Linked DNA regions of Homo sapiens: regions 2 and 3 are each reported to be linked to region 1. The links are microRNA targets in miRTarBase. Many come from high-throughput screens and were not tested one by one. Region 1 holds a microRNA gene; each other region holds the end of a gene's coding sequence.

Region 1 (8,039 bases):
CAGCACGCCTGCTTTCTGACCTGCTTGGTACGTTTCGGGCCCAAAGTGTCAGAGTGTGGATTTTCACAATCCCCCTCCCACATTTTAAGTTTGCAGGCAAATGAACCTTAATGTGCCTTCTCTACTTCCCTCCCTCCCTCCTTCCCTCTCACACTCAGAGTGCCAGAAAGAAGAACCTGCTGACTCCACCACTCGTCTATATGTCTTGACTGTAGGAGAGAGAGCTTTCCTGATCCCATTCCTATTTGTGGAGTCTGTGGGAGAGCAAGCCATCTTGCCTTCTTGTTATTTCTCTCCTTCACCCATGCATGACACTGCAAAGGGTTTGCTGGCTTGAGTCTTCTACACACACACACACAGTCTGAGACATCTGATGTGTTCACCCTCCCATTTGCCTTGAATGGTAGTGTGTGTGTTTTTTAATTCCACTCTTATATACACAACTTACAGGAGAGTGAATTTTCTAGTGCCACCCCCCCGCCATAGGCTATGTGCCCCCTTGCTTTTTTTCACCCAGCATCCAGAGTCGAGATTGTTTAGTGCCCTTCTTACAGGCCTTGTTGGCAAGAGTGAGCATTATTATGGGACACCCTCCCCACCCCCGACACAGATGATGCACACAGGAGTACAAGATGATGAGGCTCCTGATCACCCCACGCCTCCTTAGACCTACGTCTGTGTACATCCTCTGTCTGTGAGGGAGAGAGGAGGTGACTCCTTACCTGTTTGTCTCACATGCCTCACACATTGGGGTGTGAGCTGTCTCAGTTCCCTCCCACACATGAGGTTTACAGATGTGCAAGCTTTCTGAGCTGTGCCCTGCCTCTTAAACCCAGCATGCCTTCTTAGTGCTCTTCCCACAAGCATGCATTATTGGAGAGTGGACTTTGCTTTTTTTTTTTTTTTTTAACTTGCTGAGTTGAAGTATTTGAAGGATAGTGGGCCTAAAAAAACTGGCTCTGGCACAGGCACATGTGCCTTCACATGTGTACACACATGTACACCACGAGGGAGATGAATCCTTCGGCCTGTTAGTGTTTGCTTTGTATGGTAGATGTGTTGAGGAATAAAAAAAATAATCTGCCCCTTTTAGCTGAGGGGAAAAATAAGTTCAGAAATGGCAGTTGATCCATTAAGGATGGTGGGCAGTTTCTAAGCTATACTCTGTTGGCCAGCAAGTTTAAAGACTAAAGAAAAAGTGTCAGTGTGAACACATATTTGGCTCTTTTCACTATAGTTGGTGTTGTCAAGCAGCTGATACCTGCGGAATAGAATATGAGAATTGTGCTACAACGAATACATTTGCTTTCTTAGTCTGTACATTAAAAGCCCCTTTTTTTACTTGTTTTAAAGGTTGTGGAGCATTGTTTGAATGACAGTTATTTACATTGTAAAAATAGTATGAAATTTATGATATTTTAAAAATTTGCTAGGATTCATCAGTGAGCATTCTTCCTATATCTGCCCTGTCTCTGCTCTCCACTCCCCCAGCTCTCCTGCCCCATGCAGGGGTGCAAGCCTCTCAAGCTATCCCATCCCACCTTGACCACACAGAACTACAGTGAGCTTTTTATTTTAAATATGCTTCCCCAAACCTGTTGGACTGTGGGTTTCCCCATCCGCCTCCTGCTTGCAGCCTCTCTCTCTAATCCTGCTTTTCTCTTTCTTTCTCTCATGTGCATACACTCATGATATGCATGTAAGGGAGACACCTGAGTTGCCCCATTGCATCCAGCATCGCAGGACTGTGAGCCTTCTATTGCTGCCACTCTCCTACCCCACGCATGGCTTAACCTAAAATAAAACTGACCTCCCAATTGGGAGGTTATTACAACCTCCCAATGCACACACTGGCTGGGCCACAGTGGCGTGTGAACCACTGTGTCAGCCACCTTATTACCCCTTTTCTGTGCATGCCCCCACACACATTTATGATAGGAGCTTGAGCCTCCTTATTCTCCATCCTTGCTCTTTCTCTCTTCCTTTTCCTCCCTCATCTCACATGTGTGTGCCAAGGATGTGCCAGAAAGTGGGTCCTTATCATTTTCAGTTCTCATACACATGTGGGTACACACAGCTTTAGGGTTCAGTGGTTAGGCCCACTGTCTTGGTAGTCAGATTACCTGTGGTAGAATCCTGGCGTGATCTGTAATGAGCTTTGTGATCCTAGACAAGTGACTTATCTTGTGTCTCAATTTCCACAACATGAAAATGAGATAACTAATTGTGCCAACCATATAGGTTTGTAATAAGCACTGAAGGAGGCGACGCATGTATTGGGATTAACATGTAATAAACTTCCTTAATCCATATGCTTTGCCTGGAGCAACTGATTCTCCATAGAAGAAAACTCACACCTAAGCTGCTTGGTCCCATTATTTGAAAATGTTTGGGAAGTACTGCCTTGGATGACTGTTTCATAATTCTTTCCTTTCCTCAAATCTGCAGTGTCACCTCCCTTCCTTCCTCCTCACTCTCAGCTGCTGACTTTGCTTTCTTCTTCCTTGAGAAAATGGAAGCCATCAGAAGGGACCCTCTGAAGTTCCTCTGACCTCTCCTCCATTACCTGCACATGTCCCTAAGTGTCAGCTCCTCCCCATTATGGTAGATGAATTACTGGCACATGTAGCCAGGACCAGTTCCTCCACTTGTATACTAGATTTCAACCCCTGTCACCTATTCAGTGACAGTGCTCCTGCAATTGATCCCCCTCTCCTTACTGCATCATCAACTGTTCTTTGTATACTGGAGTGTTTGTACCAATATCTAGATGTGCTGCCACATATCCTGTCTAAAAATAATTTTAAAAATTAAAAAGCACTACCTTCTCTACCCAAAAAGCTCCTCCAGTTTCTACTCATTTCTCTGTTCCTCTTTACAGAAAAAAAAAAAATTTTTTTGAAGGAGCTGATTGTACTCCATCTCTACTTCTATTTCTCCCATTTACTCTTTTTTTTAAATGTATACTTTAAGTTCTAGGGTACATGTGCACAACATGCAGGTTTGTTACATATGCATACATGTGCCATGTTGGTGTGCTGCACCCGTTAACTTGTCATTTACATTAGGTATATCTCCTAATGCTATCCCTCCCCCCTCCCCCCACCCCATGACAGGCCCCGATGTGTGATGTTCCCCTTCCTGTGTCCAAGTGTTCTCATTGTTCAATTCCCACCTATGAGTGAGAACATGTGGTGTTTGGTTTTCTGTCCTTGGATCCCTTCCTTACACCTTATACAAAAATTAATTCAAGATGGATTAAAGACTTAAATGTTAGTCCCATTTACTCTTGAAAACCCTCCATGTAAAACTGTAACCTGCAGCACTTAAATGACCCTGGTCAAGGTCCCCAGTGTCCTTCACATTTCCCAATTTACTGGGCAATGTTGTCATCTTACTTGACAGATCAACACACAGTTGATCACTCCCTCTGCCTTGAGACTCTACCTGCTTTCCAGGATTCCACACTCATGAGGTTGTCTTCTTACCTCACAAGCCTCTCTTTCTCAGTCTCTTGATGGTTTCTCCTCCTCTTCCTGAATTCTAAGTATTAAAGAGATATAGGGCTTAGTCTTCAGACTTCTTTTTTTTTTTTTAACTTCTCATTAGTCCTCAGCTGTTCTCATCTTGTCTTGCAACTCTAAGTACCATTTTATGTGGATGATTTCTGTGTTTGTATTTCCAGCCTGGACTTCTCTCCTGAATTCCAGATGCCTATGTCCAACTATGTACTGGACATCTGCCCCGAATGTCTAATAAGTATCTCAAAACTTTAACACATCCAAAGCTGAGGTCCTGGTTTTCCTCCCCCTCTCAAAAAGCCCTACTCCTCCCTCTGTGTTCTCCAACTCAGCAAACAGCATTTCCCAATTGCATATGCCAAGGATATGGAGAATTTTAATAAGCTAAAGGTTTTGGATTCATCTTTGACACTTTTTCCCCTCCATTCTCCAAATACAAACTGCTGTCAAATCTTGTTGGCTCTACTTTCAAAATACATGTCTAATCTGACCACACAGCCACTTCTCATACTTCTCACTTCCTCTATTATTTCCACACTAATCCAGCTTTTCCCTGGGCTGACAAGTGCAAGTTCTCTTGCGTCTGTCTGTCTGTCTGTCTCTCTGTCTCTGTCTCTGTCTCTGTCTCTCTCTCTCTCTCTCTGTGTGTGTGTGTGTGTGTGTGTGTGTGTGTGTGTGGTGTGTGTGTGGACACAAAGTGGTTGGTGGCTGAGAGCTTGAGCCTCCTTTTTTGAGTCCTCTTTCTAATGACCTGCATGCCAGATTCTAAGCTTTCTTACCATCTGTTCTCGTATGTGTGTTATTTCATCTGTAAAATAGGGATAATGATCACCTCATGGATATTTTATGAGAATAAATGAGCTATGTGTGAAAAGCACTTAAAACAGTGCTCTGCAAATGTAAATACTATACTGGTGTTAGGAATAAAAATAAAGGAAAAGAAAGAAGGAAGGAAAACAAATATGTTGTAGATAGTGAACATTTCTGAAGGTACATATGTGAATGTACACAAGCACACCTTCTCATTACAGCATGTCTGGGGCACAGTCATAGAAGTCCAAGGCATCTGGGATACGCATGCACACAGTATACAGGAGAGCAGACCTCCCGACTTGCTTTCTCTCCTCCATGCCTTGAGTGTAGGACCGTTGGCATCTTAATTACCCTCCCACACCCAAGGCTTGCAGAAGAGCGAGCCTTCTCTTCCCTCTCCAGTGCATAGGCATGAGCACATGGACAGGTACACCAAAGGGAGGTAGACCCTCTCTTACGTGCTCTGTATGTGGGGTACACTGTTAGCAGCCATCCCATCTGGATGACTGTCCTGCTTCCATGGCCACTGCTCCTAGTTTACCCATCAGCACTCCTGTGGCTATCTTGCTGCCCACTTGCACCCCCCAGGCCAGTGCCTCTTGCCTCCTAGAGCATACCCATATGTCGTGCCAAGAGAGCAAGCCCTTCCCTGCTCCCTCTCTCACATCCCTTGCATGGTGGAGGGTGAGCTTTCTGAAAACCCCTCCCACATGCAGGGTTTGCAGGATGGCGAGCCTCAGCTTTCCTTGCTCTCTTGTGCATGTGTATATACACATACGCACTCCTTCACCAAAAGAAAAACACACACCCATGTGGTGGGAAGGAGAATGACTCTCAGCCATGTCCTTTCTCCCATCTCAGTCTTACATGGATCCTGCAGGAGAGGGAGACTTCTCTTAGCTTTCTCTTGCACATGGTGCAGCCCCTCATACTCAGGGATAGGCACAGCCTAGAGAAGGAAGGGGGGTCTTTTGACCTGGTTCTGTCTTAGCGGCACCTAGAGGAGGAGAGAGAACCTTCTCAGGACTCCTGTACATGGGGCATGATGAAAAGGGAGTCTTCTAGCTAATTCTCACAAACCCAGTTTGTGAGGAAAATTGTGTCTATATCATAACCATATGCAAAGATGTAATATGCACACACATTTTGGGTTCAGAAAGTAGAATCCACTCACTGTGCCATGCCTTTCCATATGCACACTTGTTTGCTCAAGAGGGTGTGTGAAGATCTGTCTTCTTAGACACTCATGTAGATATGAGTCAGATTGTGAGTTTTCTCTGTTATCTCCCCAGACCCAGGATTTGCAGCCGATTCATTTGGTGAGCCACTCATTCATTCAGCAAATATTTATCGAGCAGCTACTGTGTGTTGGGTACTCCCCTATGCACCAGGGATACACCAGTGACCAAAAGACAAGAATCCCTGCCCTAGTGAGGGGAGGCAGGTAGTGAACAAAATAAGTAAGTAATAGATAGTGTGCCAATTGTTGATAAGTGCTCTGGAGAATAATAAGGCAGGAAAAGGGGACAAGGAGTGGGTGGGGGTAGTTACAGCATAGATGGTGGTGGAGAAGTTTCGATATCAAATAGGGTAGTCAGGAAAGGCCTACTGTGTTCTAGGAACAACAAAGAGCCATTGTGGCAGAAGCATAGGGCTGGGAAGTAGTAAGTTACAATGGAAAAAGGGAAAGCTGATAATTACTATGTATCTCTAAAATCTAAGGCCGCTTTTAAAAAAAAAATCATACCATTATCACACTTAAAAATAATTACCATCCAGGCACAGGGGCTCATGCCTGTAATCTCAGCACTTTGTGGGAGGCTAAGGTAGGCAGATCACCTGAGGTTAGGAATTCAAGACCAGCCTGGCCAACATGGTGAAACCCCGTCTCTACTAAAAATACAAAAATTAGTCAGGCCTGGTGGCAGGTGCCTGTAATCCCAGCTACTCGGGAGGCTGAGGCAGGAGAATCGCTTGAACCCGGGAGGCGGAGGTTGCAGTGAGCCAAGATCGTGCCACTGCGCTCCAGCCTGGGTGACAAGAGCGAGGCTTCATCTCAAAAAGAAAAAAAATTGCCAACAATTTTTTAATATCATCACATATCTGTTGTTCCCATTTCCACTTGTCTCAGAAATATCATAAATTAGGATCCAGATAAGGTCCATGCATTGCATTTGGTTGATATGTATCTTAAGTCCCTTTGAATTATATCTTTCCCTTCCATCTATATTTTTTCTTTCCTTATAATTTATTTGTTGGAAGAAAGTGGGCCATTCATCCTATACAGTTTTGCATAGTCTGGATTTTTGTGATCACATCCCTGTGATGTAGTTTACATGTTCCTTCTCCTTGTTTGTATTTCCTGTAAACTGATAGTTGCATCTGGAAGCCTGATCAAATTCAGGCTTAATTTTGAGGAAGGGGGAGCAGAACTACTTCCATTAAGAGGCACAAAATAACTGATGATCATCTTTCTGTGATGTTAGTTGCCACCGATGCTCAATTCTTAGAGCCGTTATTTCATTAGGGGTTGCAAAATGATGATATTCTAATCCCATTATTCTCTTGATTTATTAGCTGGAATACTTCTATAAAGAAAAACTTCCCTTCATCTGCTATTTGATCACCCAGTGTTGCCGTCTTTATAGGCAAGATAGGATAAATGTTTGGTTCTCTTTATTTATCAGTACTCAGAATAATGAGTTGGTTCACTAGCTTACTCTAAAGAGGATTTTTTAAAAAAACTATTATAATAAACTCATAGATTTAAATATATTTGGACTTTTAATCCATTGCAGTTCTTGCCTTCAGTGAAGCTCCAGTGCCCCATCTTTAGCCAGTAGGAGCTTCTTCAAATTGGTTCCTCAGTCCTTTTGACATGCCTCCGTAGTTATCTGATAGCTTCTCCGCTTTCAGAGATGAAAAAAATGTACAAAGCTCATCGCAGATACCTTCCCCAGGCCTGGAATCTGCCATGTCTTCAAGAAGCCCTGGTTTCTTTTAATCAGACATGATATTTAAAGACCATATTTGCCTCTGGATTGGTCATTGTATTTAGGCTTCTACAATGATCAGAACAGAAAAATGTTTTGTTTTTGTGTTTTCTTGTTTCTAGATAAATACATCATGATTCCATTATACTTCTGATTCAAAATCAGGATTACAGTTTTCTGTGTCTTTGCTTCACAAGTATGGTTCTGACTGTTGTATGGCAAATAGGAGGAGAAAGTGCAGAAACTGGGAGACCAGTTAGGAGGCCATTGAAATAATTCAGTTGAGAGATGGATGGAGGCCTACATCAGGGTGATCGTGGTGAAGGTAGTAAAAAGTGGTTATATTTTAAAGTTACAGCCAGTTGAGTTTACTGATACATTGCATGTGAAGTGTGAGAGAAAGAGGAGTAGGAGACTGAGCCCTCTCTTCCCTCTTTGTCACATATGAGTTGGGTACATATGCTGACACTGCCTCTTTAATCTGTAGCATCCGCATGCAAGTGCTGTCCCAGTGCAGTACACCTGGGCTAGGACTCACAGATGGTATGTTATGCACAGAGCAGAGAGTGCCTGTCACCTCTCCTAGTTCCTTTCAGAGAGCTTTTTGAATGCCTGTTGGATTTGGGGATCCAATAGTGGCAAGAGCATCAGGGACCCTGGTTTTACTGTGGGGTGAGCTTGTGCCAGAGAACACAGTTCATCATTCCCATTC
Region 2 (8,039 bases), not on the chromosome of region 1:
TACTTTACCCTTTAACACTCTGGGTAGGTGCTGGTGGATGTGCCCTGTACCACAGACCGCCACTCCCTTCATGAGGAGGAGAACAACATCTTTAAGCGGTCAAGGAAGAAGGAGCGACAGATATTGCCTGTGCTGCAAGTGCAGCTTCTTGCGTGAGTGACAGATTTTTAAACTCAGGACTTTGTGCCAGAGTGCTCTGGGAGACTGGGGGACTGGAAGCTCTTACCAAGACCATAACCCACACAAGAATCTTATGGCTGGAGATCTGCCTAGAGGAGACAGAAATGGGATCATCTCTGGAACATAAAAACCCTATTTGAATTAGCTGGGTGTGGAGATGCACACCTGTAGTCCCAGCTACTCAGGGGGCTGAGGGAGGAGAATCACTTGAACCTAGGAGGTGGAGGCTGCAGTGAGCTGAGATCGTGCCACTGCACTCCAGCCTGGGTAACAGAGCAAGACTCTGTCTCAAAAAACAAAAACAAAAACAAAAAAGCAACCCTATCTAGTAGGATATATATACTAGAGTGGGCTGCACAGATTGACTCATGCTATTTCATCCTCAGTACCAGTGAGTAGCACATGTTTGAAAAATAGCTGCTAGAGTAAGGACTCATTCTATAGCCAGCATAGCAATTTGGTCCATAAACAAGAGCTCAGGGGGTCATTGTAAGGAGACTTCCTAGTGAAGAGCTCATGGAGTAAGGTTGGGTTGCTATCTGCCTTGAGAGTGACTTTTCAGACAGTGTCATTGTGGAAGGGACTTGAGAGGCAGTCTAACCAGCTACCCATCCTGTAGTAGCCTTCCCTTATCCATGTTTCCAGCTCCTTATGTTGCTCTTCTACTGCTGGGAAGCTCACTAGTAACTGCTTCTGTCTCTTTCTGGTTTCAGGGCTGGACTCCTTGCCACCAAACCAGGAGGCCATGTTGTCTATTCTACCTGCTCACTCTCACACTTACAGAACGAGTATGTGGTGCAAGGTGCCATTGAGCTCCTGGCCAATCAATACAGCATCCAGGTACAGGTGGAAGATCTGACTCACTTCCGAAGGGTTTTCATGGACACATTTTGTTTCTTCTCATCCTGTCAGGTTGGGGAGCTGGTAATACCAAACCTCATGGCCAATTTTGGCCCCATGTACTTCTGCAAAATGCGTAGGCTGACATAGTATCACCCAATCCCTGAAGCAAGAATACAAAGGGTATACTCTGTTGGATGCACCAGAAACTGGAAACTGGGACCAGTGGCAGAGATGCACTCTCGGTCCTGTCTCCATCCTGTTCGTGTCTTTCTGCAGTTTTCGGCAATAAGAAGTAGAAGATTTGCTGTCCTGCTGTCCAATTGTGGAGCATCAGCAGGTTTCCAACTCACTCATTAACCCCTACCCCATCTCCAGGCCTGTACTAAAGTTTGCTGCCCGCTTAGGGGCTTAGAAGGAGAAGCCAGTGAGCAGGCTCACACTAAGTTGTAAACATAGGAGAAGCATTTGGCCAATAAAGTTGTTGAAACTCTATAGACCTGGGGCTGCAGTTGGGGACTTCATGTCAGTGCAAATGCCATTAGTTCCATTTGTACCAGCCAGTTACTGAGCCCCTGTCACCCTTGAAGTGAGTTCCACCTGACCAGTCTTGAGCAGCCAACAGGCTCAATTAAGCCCGCCTGGTTTTTCCATATGGCTCATGATCTAATTTAAGGAACAAGTAACTAAAAATGTTAAGCCAGTGCAAAATAATCTGCTTACCTACTCACATTGGAAAAACCCTCTGAGCTGAATAATTCTGGCCATTCCTGCTGTCAACAATACTGCTGCCCAAATGTGGCTTAGGAGGCTGCTTCTGCCACAAAACCGTCATACTCTTGTGCGTGCCTTGTTCTTTGTTCATTCATCTAGCAGGTATTCCCAGACCTCGTGTATGACAGGTAGCTAGGGAGCTCTTGGAGATGTAGCAGTTGGGATTGTGGGAGATTACTGGGCTTCCTCATCCTTTAGAATGGTAACTCTCCTTTTGCTTTCTGAACACCTAGGAATTTCCTGATGTTTTGTTTTGTTGGATTCCAGACTTTTTGTTGTTTCTAGTCTGCAGCTGAGCTCTGGTGCCTGTTCTTTGGCCCACCCCCTAATCCCTAACTCTTCCCTCAGCATCACAGGGCTTCACTGCACACACTGTGTTCAGGGCAAGATTTCATCATTTACTGACTGCATACTCGATATGTTGTTTTTGTAACTTTAGCCAAAAGAAAGTAACCTTTAGTGGCAGGGATATAAAAAATTGCTCAGGGTCACTTGCAGATATTTTATTTTTAAACTTTTTTTTTTTTTCCTGGAAAACATCCTGTGCAGAAAAGGGTATATAATTTTAGAATACCTGAAGGCTTCTTGGCTTTTCCACTTTCCTTATTCCTCCTCTTCCTGCCACTCTTTTTGTCCCTTCTGTCTTTCCTGCTCATCCTTATTTGGGTATTAGAGGTGTCAGTTGAGGAGGGACTTTAGCTGAGGTTAAGCCTTCTTTTGGGATTTGCATTGTAATTGAGGGCCCTGGAAGATCTCTGAGACTCAAAATCAGGTGAAGCTAGGAAGATGGAGCTTTAAGGAGCATGGCTAGTGCTCTGAGTAGGACCGTAACCGCCTCCGTGCGTGGCATATGGTCCCTGCATGCTGTTCACTCTGTATAGTACTTAGTATTCGCTGAGGCTAAGAGGCCTCAGGTGCCTGGGCTTCTGCCCTTGGACTCCTGGATATCCAGCCTAGTGCTAATTGAATGCTAAGCAGTGGTAATTCAAAATGAGAGGGTCCCCTGCCTCTAGAGTCATCATCTAATTGGGGACAGGCAGACCTAGATAAGAAAAGCAGAGAACTACTTTGGAAAACAGTTTATCTGCTGTAATTGAACATTCAGCTACCCTATAACCCAGTTAATCCAATACTGGGGATAAATCCTAGAGAAACTCATACATGTACACCAGGAGATGTGTACAAGAATATTCATAGCAACCCTATTCACAAAAGCAAAAGCCTAGAAATAACCCAGATGCCCATGAGCAAGAGAGTGGACAAGTAAACTGGAATATTCACATAATAGAACATTATACAATTGTCAAATGAACTATAATGATACCTAACCATATGGATGAATCTGAGCAATAAAATAATTAAGTGAAAAAAGTTTAATCCCAGAAGAGTAAATGTAGCATGATGCCCTTTCTAAATGAAAGGTTTTTTCTTTTCTATGGAGTTATTCTTTACATACAATATAGTTCATAAATTTTAAATATATTGTTTAATAAATTTTGATAATTGTATATAATAGTATAGTCACCATCAAGATGTAGAAAATAGAAAATAGGCTAGGCACAGTGGCTCACGCCTGTAATCTCAACACTTTGGGAGGCCAAGGTGGGAAGATCACTTGATCCCAGGAATTCTAGATCAGCTTGGACAATGTAGTGAGACCTGGTCTTTACCAAAAAAAAAAAAAAAAAAATTAGCTGGGTGCGCTGGCATGTGCCTGTGGTCCCAGCTACTCAGGAGGCTGAGGCAGGAGGATCACTTGAGCACAGGAGTTTGAGGCTGCAGTGAGCAGCCTGGGCAAGAGAGTGAGACTCCGTTTTGTGCCACTGCACTCCAGCCAGGGTGACAGAGTGAGACTCTGTCTCAAAAAAAAAAAAAAAAAAAAAGGCATTGGGATTTATAATGTGCTGTTTAAAGTCTGAAGCTCGGCCAGGTGCGGTGGCTCACGCCTGTAATCCCAAAACTTTGGAAGGCTGAGGCAGGTGGATCACCTGAGGTCAGGAGGAGTTCAAGACCAGCCTGGCCAACGTGGTGAAACCCCATCTCTATAAAAGTACAAAAGGGCATGATGGCAGGTGCCTGTAATCTCAGCTACTCAGTAGGCTGGAGCGGGAGAACTGCTTGAACCTGGGAGGTGGAGGTTTCAGTGAGCCAAGATAGCGCCATTGCACTCCAGCGTGGGCGACAGCAAGAGACTTCATTTCGATAAATAAGTAAATAAATAAATAAAGTCTGAAGCTCCACTGGTCACTCCTTTTATTGATTATTTGCAGCTGGTCTAACCAGTTACGTATGTCTGGCTTGATTACATGGCCAGAGCAACATAAAAGCCCTGCTGGGAACTTCTGATTTGAGCTCTTCCAAAACCAGGATGGATGCCTCACATAGATCATGATGATTCAATCCAAAGGCACTTTGCAGTGCAGTCCACATGTGCATAAGGACCATGGGGAGCTTGTATTTGGGAATTCTGAGATTCCTGATGTTTACCTACCTAGTCTTTCTCTTGCTGCCCTGTATCCTTTGCCTTTAAATAAAAATCTTAAGTGATTATGCTCTGTGAAGCCTGGATAATCCTTTCAAATATTTGGTCTTGGAAAATTTTTGCATATATACATGGAATCATACAATATGTAGTCTTTGGTGTTTGACTTCTTTGACTTAGTGTAATGTTTTTGAGATTCAGTTTGTTGTGAGTATTAATGTTTTGTTCCTTTTTATTGCTGAATTGTATTCCATGGTGCAGACATACCACCATGTTGTTTATCTGTTCACCAGTTGATGGACATTTGAGTTGCTTCCAGTTTGGGGCTATTATTAGTAATGCTGCCAATACCTTTTGGGCATATAATTTTGTGAGTACGTGTTTTCTTTTCTTTTTTTATTTTTTGAGATGGAGTCTCACTCTTTTGCCCAGGCTGGAGTGCAATGGTGCAATCTCAGCTCACTGCAACCCCCGCCTCCCAGGTTCAAGCGATTCTTCTGCTGCAGCTTCCTGAGTAGCTGGGATTACAGGCACCCACCACCATGCCTGGTTAATTTCTTTGTATTTTTAGTAGAAACGGGGTTTCGCCATGTTGGCCAGGCTGGTCTCGAACTCCTGACCTCAGATGATCCACCTACCTCGGCCTCCCAAAGTGCTAGGATTACAGGTGTGAACCACTGTGCCCAGCCCATGTTTTCTTCTGAGTAAATACTTAGGGGTAGAATTGCTAGGTCATATGGTAAATGTATGTTTAACTTTATAAGGTACCACCATACTGTTTTCCAAAGTGGATCTACCATTTTGCACGGCCATCAGCAATGTATGAGAGGTCCATTTGCTCCACATCTTAGTACTAACACTTAGGATTATCAACGTTAAACTTTATTGTAGTGGGCCGGGCAGTGTGGCTTATGTCTGTAATCCCAGTACTTTGGGAGGCCGAGGCGGGCGGATCACTTAAGGTCAGGAGTTCAAGACCAGCCTGGCTAACATGGGAAAACCCCGTCTGTACTAAAAATGCAAAAATTAGCCGGGTGTGGTGGCACATACCTGTGATTCCAGCTACTTGGGAGACTAAGGCATGAGAATCACTTGCACCCAGGAGGTAGAGGTTGCAGTGAGCTGGGATTGCACCACTGTACTCCAGCCTGGGCAACAGAGGGAGACTCTGTCTCAAAAATAAATAATAAATAAAAACTTCATTCTAGTGGATGTATCTTGATACCTCGTTGTGGTCCTAATTTGCATTTCTCTAATGAGTAGTGATGCTATAAAATTAAATACAATTAAGAATTTAAAAACATGTAAAAAGAACATGTATGCAGTAAAACCATGTAAGAAGGAAAGAATGGTTCTCACTATGGAATTCAGTATAATGGTTCTTAGAGGTAGGGGGATAGGATGGGGCTGGAGGGAACATAAAGTTAGATTATTGTTAAGGCTCTAGCTTTTATGTTTGGTGCTTATTGAATTATTAAAAGCAGCTAAGTTAATAAAAAGTTATACATAAAAATTTGTTATTCATGACAAAAGTGATAAAAGTATGTTATAAACAAAGATTATGATTAATTCAATTTTGTACATCTGAGGTCTCCCTAAAAAAAGAGAAGGGGGTTGGCTGGGCATGGTGGCATGGTGGCTCATGCCTGTAATCCCAGTACTTTGGGAGGCCAAGGCAGGTGGATCACCTGAGGTCAGGAGTTCGAGACCAGGCTGGCCAACATGGTGAAACCCCATCTCTACTAAAAATACAAAAAAAAAAAAAAAAAAAAAAAAAGTGGGTAGAGAACCAAGCCCACAGAGAATAATAATGCAAAATATGGCTTAATGTAGGAGGGATCATATTGAGAGACCTGGAAGCTTAGCAGTATTGCCTCAGTCTTGTTCATGAGCTCCTCTTTCCTTGTGATTTGCAACAGTTGAACCACAGCAGAGGGTCAGGTATTGGGGCAGTTATGGGTCAATATACATTGATAGCTTGGATCTATGGTTTTCACCTTTTAGGAGTCACAAATCTGTTTGAGAGACTGGTAAAAGCTTTGGCCGTTCTCAGAAAAATAAAGACAAAAAACACCATAGCATTTTACATATAATTTCAGGGGCTTTGGTACTTCCTAAGGCCTATCTCCCCCAAGTTAAGAACCTTTGGATTAGAAGATCTCAGATTTGAGGGTCTTTAGTGGAAGGCAAGGGGGTCAAGCAGAGACCCCAGTAACAACTCAAATCACCACTCTCACCCCTGCCAATCTGCCCTTCTTCCCATCTGCATTCTTCATCTCCAAACTTAACACCACCCTTTACCCTGCTGCCCATGCCAGAAACTGCAGCTATCCTTGATGCAGTGACAGTAATCACTACTGTATATCGAACGTACCTGAGCCAGGCCCATGTGAAAAAAGCATTGTTTTACTTACATCATTGTTTCTTACTTTCACAGAAACCCTGGGATATGCTCTTTTTTGTTGTTGCCTATTTATTATAAAACTTTGAAAGAGTTATTCGTTAATTTGAACATTTTCATCCATTTTGTGGCTTTTCTTTGCACTATTTTTATGGTGTGTTTTTATTGCAGGGCAGGCAAGCCTCAAAACTGGGGCTTAGCCTGGGAGAAAGCCAGGAAAGAATTCAAGGGCAAGCTAGTGGTGTTAGACAGCAATCTTTTATTGAACAGTACTGCTCCTTGCAGAGTAAGGCTAACTCATAGGCAGCAAATCCAGAGTCAGCTGATATACTCTTTTTAGTCCCATTTTATAGAGAAGGAAACAAGCTTAGATTGCTTAAGTAACTCAAAAAGTTACAATCTGAAATTTCTTTTTTTTTTTTTTTTTTTTTTAAGACAGGGTCTGGCTCTCACCAGGGTGGAGTGCCGTGGTGTGATCTCGGCTCACTGCAACCTCCGCCTCCCAGGCTCAAGTGATCCTCCTGCCTCAGCCTACTGAGTAGCTGGGACTACAGGCACATGCCACCGCGCCTGGCTAATTTCTGTATTTTTAGTAGAGATGGGGTTTCGCCATGTTGCCCAGGCTGGTCTTGAACTCTTGAGCTCAAGTGATCAGCCTGCCTTGGCCTCCCAAAGTGCTAGGATTACAGGCATGAGCCACTGCGCCCAGCCACAATCTGAAATTCCTTTCTTGAAATGTCGCTTATATTTCTCTCCTTCCTAGCATTCCTACCTTAGGTAGGGCCTTATCATTTCTCACTGATCAAAGGCAGTAGCCTCAAAACTCATTTCTATTACTCCAATCAGCCCTAAATTCTTCCATTCTCCCCCATCCTCTCATGCCACCCCTTATCTGTTGTGTGATCGCCGATCACAATAATTCCTCCCATCCTGTCCCAGTACAATGTGACTTTGCTGCTTCTGTCATTAAGAGATGGAGTCTGTTTCCCCACCTCTTGAATCTGGGCTGATCTTATGATTTGTTTTGACCAGTAAAGTCTGGTGGAAGGGATGCTGTGCAACTTCTGCATGTAGGCCTCAAGAAGCCTCGCAACTTCCACGCTCATTTTGGAGCTCTTCTGCGGCTCTGTGAAGAAGCCTGGACCAATCTGCTGGAGACATGTGCTGGAAGCTGTCTTAGACCTCCTAAGCTCAGTTAAACGGTTAGGTGACCCAAACAGCATGAGTGACCCCAGCCAAGACCAACCTAAATCGCTGACCTCCAGAATCATGAACAAATAAAGTAGTGGTTGTTTTAAGCCAGTAAGTTTTGGAAATGGTTAAGTAAATTTAAATAAAATTTTAACATATGTCATTTGTGTT
Region 3 (8,039 bases), not on the chromosome of region 1:
TTGCTTTGAGATCAATTAAGATTCATGAATTGCTTGGCTGAAATGTCTCTTAAGGCTCTTTTAGTCTATAGATATTCTCTCTCTCACTTGCAGTTTATTTTTAAAACTTAAACAATTTCTGTAGAATTTTCCAGACTCTGGATTTTGCTGATTATATTGCTGAAGTGTCATTTAAAGTTTCTTCAAGTGGTAGTTAGATCTGTAGGCTTGATCATACTCAAGAATACTTGTCCAAGAATGTTTAACAGGTGGTTTGTAAGCTTTTATCAGGAAAGCACATAATTTCTGGTTCTATTTCTTTGTGAAGTTAGCAGCCATTGATAGTTATTGCCTAGCTCAAATAATTCATTAGTGGTTATAATATTCTAATTCTGTTGTTCCTTTTATATTTGTTAGCTGGAATACTTCCATAAGGATAACCTTCCTTTCATCAACCAGTTGGTAGCCTTGGGGTATAGTTCATACATAGGAGAAACAGGAGAGATGCTTGATTCTTGCCTTTCATTCACCAGTTTAGTGAATAAAAGATTCACTAAAAGATTCGTTCAAGGATGACTAGGCATTTGTGTGTGCACTTAATATTACTAATTAATGGAAGGTTTTCTTTTAAGCTTTCAATAATATTGGGCTACATCATAAATTCCTGAGGCCAATGGAGATTTCTTCTCTGACAGTTCAATAACCAACTGCATTGTCCTAAAGAGCCCTTAGTAGGTTGGTACAAAAGTAATTGTAAAGCTGCAAATACTTTTGCACCAACCTATATTTGCAATAAAGAACCATCTAGTTCATTCATTCATTCAACAAATATTTACCAAGTATCTTATATGCCAGGCACTCTTTTAGACACAGGAGATAAATATTTTACTTAACAAAACAAACATCCCTGATTTCTGGTGTTTTAAGCTCTGGTTGAGGCTAATTGTTAAAAAACAACATTTCAAAACTTCTGACCCACTTACCTCTCTGTCCTGTCTATTCCCGCAAATATGTCATCCCTACTACCAACTACACAGCTTCTACAACTTAAAAATAAAAAAGAAGCTGTCAGAAAATGCCTCTTCTCTAGAGCTTCAACTGCTATTGGGACATGGTTCCCTGTCCTTCCTTAAGAGAATTTTCAGTCACTTCTAACTATTTATCTATTGGATTTTGGGAAGATATATTGATTTTTACTTTAATGACCTAGAATAGTATATCTTCAAATCAAAGAAGGCATGTTTTTTGATTTAACAACCTTTTGCCATTATCAAATTATTCTTGCTTTATAAGAGATGTATTTTAATTCTGTAGTTACTGATTATACAAGAAATAATTGCTACTTGATTAGACTTGGCGTATGATGGTCAGACTCAGTGTATTATGGTATCAGGTGATTTGCAAAGCAAATGATACAGTTTTAGTAAGTTCAGAGAGAATACTAACATAAGGATATTTTCTTTAAAAAAGAATAACTTTCCAGAGCATAGAGTATTTAGTGTTTTTAAATGATGGATACTGCTCTGTATGTATTTGTTTCAAAACATCTTATTTTATCTTTGCAGGAGCGATTGGTTACATGGGAACAAGTGCCTTTGTCCGAAAAATCTATACTAATGTGAAAATTGACTAGAGACCCAAGAAAACCTGGAACTTTGGATCAATTTCTTTTTCATAGGGGTGGAACTTGCACAGCAAAAACAAACAAACGCAAGAAGAGATTTGGGCTTTAACACACTGGGTACTTTGTGGGTCTCTCTTTCGTCGGTGGCTTAAAGTAACATCTATTTCCATTGATCCTAGGTTCTTCCTGACTGCTTTCTCCAACTGTTCACAGCAAATGCTTGGATTTTATGCAGTAGGCATTACTACAGTACATGGCTAATCTTCCCAAAAACTAGCTCATTAAAGATGAAATAGACCAGCTCTCTTCAGTGAAGAGGACAAATAGTTTATTTAAAGCATTTGTTCCAATAAAATAAATAGAGGGAAACTTGGATGCTAAAATTACATGAATAGGAATCTTCCTGGCACTTAGTGTTTCTATGTTATTGAAAAATGATGTTCCAGAAAGATTACTTTTTTCCTCTTATTTTTACTGCCATTGTCGACCTATTGTGGGACATTTTTATATATTGAATCTGGGTTCTTTTTTGACTTTTTTTTTTTCCCAATCCAACAGCATCCTTTTTTTTAAAAGAGAGAATTAGAAAATATTAAATCCTGCATGTAATATATCTGCTGTCATCTTAGTTGGACCAACTTCCCATTTATTTATCTTAAAACTATACAGTTACATCTTAATTCCATCCAAAGAAGATACAGTTTGAAGACAGAAGTGTACTCTCTACAATGCAATTTACTGTACAGTTAGAAAGCAAAGTGTTAAATGGAGAAGATACTTGTTTTTATTAAACATTTTGAGATTTAGATAAACTACATTTTAACTGAATGTCTAAAGTGATTATCTTTTTTCCCCCCAAGTTAGTCTTAAATCTTTTGGGTTTGAATGAAGGTTTTACATAAGAAATTATTAAAAACAAGGGGGGTGGGTAATAAATGTATATAACATTAAATAATGTAACGTAGGTGTAGATTCCCAAATGCATTTGGATGTACAGATCGACTACAGAGTACTTTTTTCTTATGATGATTGGTGTAGAAATGTGTGATTTGGGTGGGCTTTTACATCTTGCCTACCATTGCATGAAACATTGGGGTTTCTTCAAAATGTGTGTGTCATACTTCTTTTGGGAGGGGGGTTGTTTTCTTCTGTTTATTTTCTGAGACTCCTACAGGAGCCAAATTTGTAATTTAGAGACACTTAATTTTGTTAATCCTGTCTGGGACACTTAAGTAACATCTAAAGCATTATTGCTTTAGAATGTTCAAATAAAATTTCCTGACCAAATTGTTTTGTGGAAATAGATGTGTTTGCAATTTGAAGATATCTTTCTGTCCAGAAGGCAAAATTACCGAATGCCATTTTTAAAAGTATGCTATAAACTATGCTACTCTCATACAGGGGACCCGTATTTTAAAATCTCCAGACTTGCTTACATCTAGATTATCCAGCACAATCATAAAGTGAATGACAAACCCTTTGAATGAAATTGTGGCACAAAATCTGTTCAGGTTGGTGTACCGTGTAAAGTGGGGATGGGGTAAAAGTGGTTAACGTACTGTTGGATCAACAAATAAAGGTTACAGTTTTGTAAGAGAAGTGATTTGAATACATTTTTCTGGAACTATTCATAATATGAAGTTTTCCTAGAACCACTGAGTTTCTAGTTTAATAGTTTGCTATGCAAATGACCACCTAAAACAATACTTTATATTGTTATTTTTAGAAAGACTCAAAACACCTGTATTTAAACCTTAATATGAAAATCATGCAATTAATAGTTACACAAGATGTTTTCATTACAAAATATGTACCTATCTATTGATGGACTCTACATCCTATATTGTGACATGTAAGTCCTTTAAAAGGTGAAAAGTATGATTTCTTACCACTTAAGTATGATTGATATGATCCAACAAATTTGATCAGAAGCTGTAGGTAAATCCTCTTCTGAAGCCAAAATGGTATATTAAATATAATTTATTGGTACTTCCATTTTCTCTTCCTTCTTACTTGCCTTTAAGATCTTATAAAAAAGAAACTAAAAGTTAATATTTAGTTGCCTATATTATGTAACCTTTTAACTATATATAAAGTACTTTTTTGGTTTCTTTCTCACCACTTTTATTCAAAAGTACTTTTAACATACCAATACATAGTCTGTCTGATGGGAGTATAAATTGGACAGTAAGGTTTTGTCTTAATAAAATGAAATTTGTTTCTCATGATATGAATCTTGCAGGTAAGATGTAGGGTTTATTGAAAATGTGTGGGTTAAATGCTTTCAGGTACACCAATTCTTTCTACTAAATTGAGCTCTATTTGAAGTTCTTTGGAATCTGTGGTGAAAAATAATTTTCTGATTTCCAAATACATTAAGAGCATTAAATGAATATTAATCACCTTTAAAGTCTTTTAGAAAAGGACTTGTATTGGTTTTTGGCTGCATAGAGGGGTTGAATAAGTGTATGTATGTGTGTGCGTGTGTGTGTGTCTTCTTAAAGAAGATGTAATTCACAAATAGTTTAGCTCCCTAGCGCTCAGTTGTAGAATAGAAAATAGAACATTATTCAAGTTAATTGAAAGGTGAGGTTTTTATACCCCCACTAATGCTGTGTATCTGTCTTTCGTTTGTTAACATTATTTGCTTAATTTCTTTCAACTCACACTTTGGATAATACTATCAAAAACTAAGGCTAAACATTCCTTGTGTATCTTTAAGCATGCTTCTCCTGAAATTTAACTACATTAGTAGTTGACATTTGTATACATATATCCTAATACAAGAGTAGGATAAGGTGGAAATGTAATGGCCTGAGGGATGGTGAAGCATTCTTTTAGTATTTTTCATCATGTTGGGCTCCTAGATTGTACTGGGGTTGCCCATAAATCAAACCCCATACTCTTAGAATTCATTATATTATGGTGATATCCGAACCTAGTGAATGGTATGCTTGGGTGTTTTCCATTGAGAGTGGATGGACCTCTTTATAAAGTTGGTTGCTGCAAAATCCAGTTCTTCCAAAAGCCACTTTATTTAGGGTTTATTCACAAGTCATATCCATTTTGGTACAGTGTTTGTTTCCTAATATTTATTAACCACCTTATACCAAATGTCTTGCAAAGAAATGTTATTAAAACCTTGAATTTTTACAAATGTAAAAAACAAAAAGTGTATTAATGTATTTGTTCAGGAAAAGCTACATACCGAAGGGCTTTTGTATATGAATTCTGTGGTGGGGAGACCCATTTGTAATCTATATGGCAGTTCCATCTGGGTTTTAAGTTTAGATTTCACCGTGTCTTAGTGCTTCATTCTATTGGTTTATTGGAACATGTAATAAATAGGAGTAGTGATGTATTAAAACACAAGTATTCATTAATGTTTTATATCTTCACTAAAATTCTATAGTTATGAAACTATCAATCAAGGTGTTATATTTCAGTCAGAAGTGAAAATTTATGAAGAGTATTTGGAAGTGTGTACAGAAATAAACTAGACTTACAGGTAGGCTAGATCAGAACGTTAACATATGAACCTGCAGAAATCTGGTAAGACTTAAATTCAGTGTGAGGAATAACTCTAGTTCTCTCCTATGAGCATTTCCTAAAAGCCATCTGATTTGGCATTCTTACTGGAGCTGCAGACAGAAATCTACAAAGACAAAAGTAAACAAAATTAAGTTATTATTCCACTGTTAGGAATGGAAATAAACTTGTGAAGTCTGTTTATTTTGAAGTATTGGTGAACTAGGCTTGCTAATTGATAACTGCAGCAGTTTGTGTTTACTCCAGTTCATCAGCTTAGGTCATTTGAAAGATATAAGAGCTTAAGGCAAGAAAGAAATAACATGGAATTCTATTTGAAGGACAACAGAACATTCTTGGAAAAGCAGCTCCAGTTGGTTTTTCAACTGTCAAACTTGAATGTGTAAGTCCCCACAGAGCATGGACAGTCGGTGCAGAGTTCCAAGGAAACAATTATTGCCTGATGACCACTTCCATTTTGTATACACTCTTTGGTTCGTATAGGCCATATTCCAACTGGCTTTTTAGTAATAGAAATCCAGTATATAATGTATCAAATACAATTGAGGTTCTAACCTAGTGTGTTAATTTATCTGAATTTGGATTTTTAAAAAGTAATAAAAAGTTAAATGTACTTCCTTTGGATTCCTTATTTCTTTCCTTTTTGAAACATGAACCAAGCATAAGGGATAACCCATTATTGACAGGCAAATGAATAACTTAGTAATAGTTTTCCACAATTAAAGCAGGGGTCTGCAGACTTTTTCTGTGAAGGTCTAGATAGTAAATACTTTCAGCTTTGAGGGCTATGCAGTCTCTGTTGAAACTATCGTTGTAGCACCAAAGCAGCCATAGTAGACTACATAAACTAATGAGCATGGCTATGTTCCAGTATAACTTCACAAAAATGGCCCACAGGCCATAGTCCGCTAACCCCTGGAATGATGTATTTAAAATTTAAGGTTTAAATTTGTATTTCAAAAGTGAACTGTAATATACAGTAAAGTTGAGAGAATGGTCCAGTGAATAAGATTGGTCTTTCTTAAGAATGATTTTTCTTTTATTGCCATTCTTTTGACTTTTTTGTATACCTATTCTGACTCTTACACTCAGACTTTACCATCTATTTGCCTGCCATCCTCTGATTGATGATTCTTTGCATTTGTTTAGCATTTACTACTTTTTCAAAGCAGTTTCACTTGTTCCTTCACAACCATCCTGTGAAGCTGGTAGAGTAGATAGCTGTGTTTTATGGATAAGAAACCACAGCTAAAGGTGCTCTTATGTTTAGCCCAGAAGTCATCAAGATTCAGGGCCCTGTTGTCTTGACTATTGTAACTGTAAAATGGGGGTGTCACCCTCTCTAGCCTGGGAGGCAGGTAATATATGTAGAAGTCACATTGAAAATTAGTGTTCTATACGAATGGAAGAGATTATTTTTATTGTGCCACATTGAAATCAGTGGTTAATTTCTCCATGTCTATTTGTATGTTTTGTTTTTCCGTTTCTGACTAGTTTTTAAAAATCCTGACCAACCTCCTTGGTTCTTTTCCCCTAGTTTTATTAGGTGCCTCAGTCAACACCTGTACTTGGCAATTCCCGTTAGCCACATCATTGGTACAAATTTGGATTACTTTTTATTTCTTTAATGAACACTTTTTGTCTGGTTGGAAAACTAAGGACAGAAGGGACTCGTATGCAGCCAGCTTCTTGATTTCAAGTGAACTATTTTTGTGGAACTGTTACTCTGCAATATAACATTAGAAAAGGGGGGAATAAGCCTAATTGGGACATGTGGAATCAGTGTAGTTTACAAATGTATTTTAAATTACTTGATTATTTGAAATGATTTTCAAAGTTTGCACGATTACTTTGCTTGACAGCGATTTCAAAGGAAAAAAATGTGGGAGATGGTTGCAGGGGAAAATTGATATAAGTGGGGCTGGCCAATGTTATGGTTATTCTTAGTGTCTCAGTCTAAGCCACTAGGATTGCAAGACTTAATATTGAAGGTCAGTGAAGAAAAGGGAGAGTCTAGAAAGTGAGACATGGAAGGTGATTCTAAGTTGGGGTTGGTCAGAGAGGTCTGCTGCAGTTATAGACCAGAAAGGGCAGTCCTGGATAGGTAAGTGTCACAGATAGGGTAGCTGCAATGCTGGCATGAGGATGTGGGATATGCGATTATCAGTGTGTCCCAGGCAGAGACATGGAGGGTGTGAAGCAGCCTTGTTAGGATGACTGCAGGGTGTTTTAATGCCAGAAGACTGGAATGTGGGAGTTGTAAGGAGCCAAGACTGGAAAGGTGAAAGGAAGGCTTGATGATGGACGGAGGACCTGTTATGCCACCCTGAAGAACTTGAATAAAGGTTTTGGAGAGCCAGGAAGGGTTTTAAGCAGCTGCTAAAAATTGTAGTATCTTTAATTACATTCTCCAGAAAACTGAGTATCTTCTCAGTGGTGAGCAATGTAAATGAAGGAATGAGCTGGCCTGGAACAAATTATCATGTATAGTCGCTTGGAAAGGCAAAATGAGAAAGTGGCCCAGGTGGATAAAACTCAGTAGACTTGAAGGGGCAAGAGAACCCAGTTACTCTGGGTGGGAGATGGACATCTAAGAGGAGAAAAACACTTGTTCAGGTTCACAGAGGACCCAGAGATATGGCAGAGGAAACCCTGAAGTAATTATTAATGTAATAATGGAGCTAAGTTGAGCAGTTTTATGTCATAAAGCCTGTTACTCTACCTCCAGTTTTTTCATGGTTTTTAAATTAAAGAAAAATACATTATAAAAATCATCTAAACCCAGATTAGAGTTTAGCTTTTATAGTTCTATCTTATGGTGTCCCTTTTCAATTATTCTTTTCTGATCTTTCTAGTGAACCAAATATTTTGTTGCCATTTATTGGTT

The links. Region 1 holds the annotated microRNA hsa-miR-188-3p (CUCCCACAUGCAGGGUUUGCA, at 5,038-5,058, shown strand). A microRNA usually pairs through its seed, bases 2 to 8, with sites in the 3' UTR of a target mRNA and lowers its output. Matches are read on the target gene's strand: a 7mer-m8 pairs with bases 2 to 8, a 7mer-A1 pairs with bases 2 to 7 and ends in A, and an 8mer does both.
Region 2: the mRNA of NSUN4 is a reported target of hsa-miR-188-3p. Seed matches in the 3' UTR shown: 7mer-m8 at 1,960-1,966 and 7mer-A1 at 3,397-3,403.
Region 3: miRTarBase lists TM9SF3 as a target of hsa-miR-188-3p. Seed matches in the 3' UTR shown: 7mer-m8 at 2,096-2,102.

What each region holds. Positions count from the first base shown.
Region 1 is chrX:49,998,519-50,006,557 of GRCh38, forward strand. MIR188 (microRNA 188) reads left to right here and starts at 4,985; the gene lies at 4,985-5,070. The region is part of intron 3 of CLCN5 (chloride voltage-gated channel 5); the gene reads left to right. MIR532 (microRNA 532) reads left to right here and starts at 4,630; the gene lies at 4,630-4,720.
Region 2 is chr1:46,360,677-46,368,715 of GRCh38, forward strand. It overlaps NSUN4 (NOP2/Sun RNA methyltransferase 4), which reads left to right. Exons shown (of 6, transcript NM_199044.4): 5 at 28-152; 6 at 894-4,342. The coding sequence ends at 1,170. Among named protein-coding and RNA genes, the nearest start is that of NSUN4, 24 kb to the left of the region's middle. RefSeq lists a silencer at 4,027-4,227.
Region 3 is chr10:96,515,836-96,523,874 of GRCh38, reverse strand. TM9SF3 (transmembrane 9 superfamily member 3) reads left to right here. Exons shown (of 15, transcript NM_020123.4): 15 at 1,545-5,765. The coding sequence ends at 1,612. Among named protein-coding and RNA genes, the nearest start is that of TLL2, 5.9 kb to the right of the region's middle.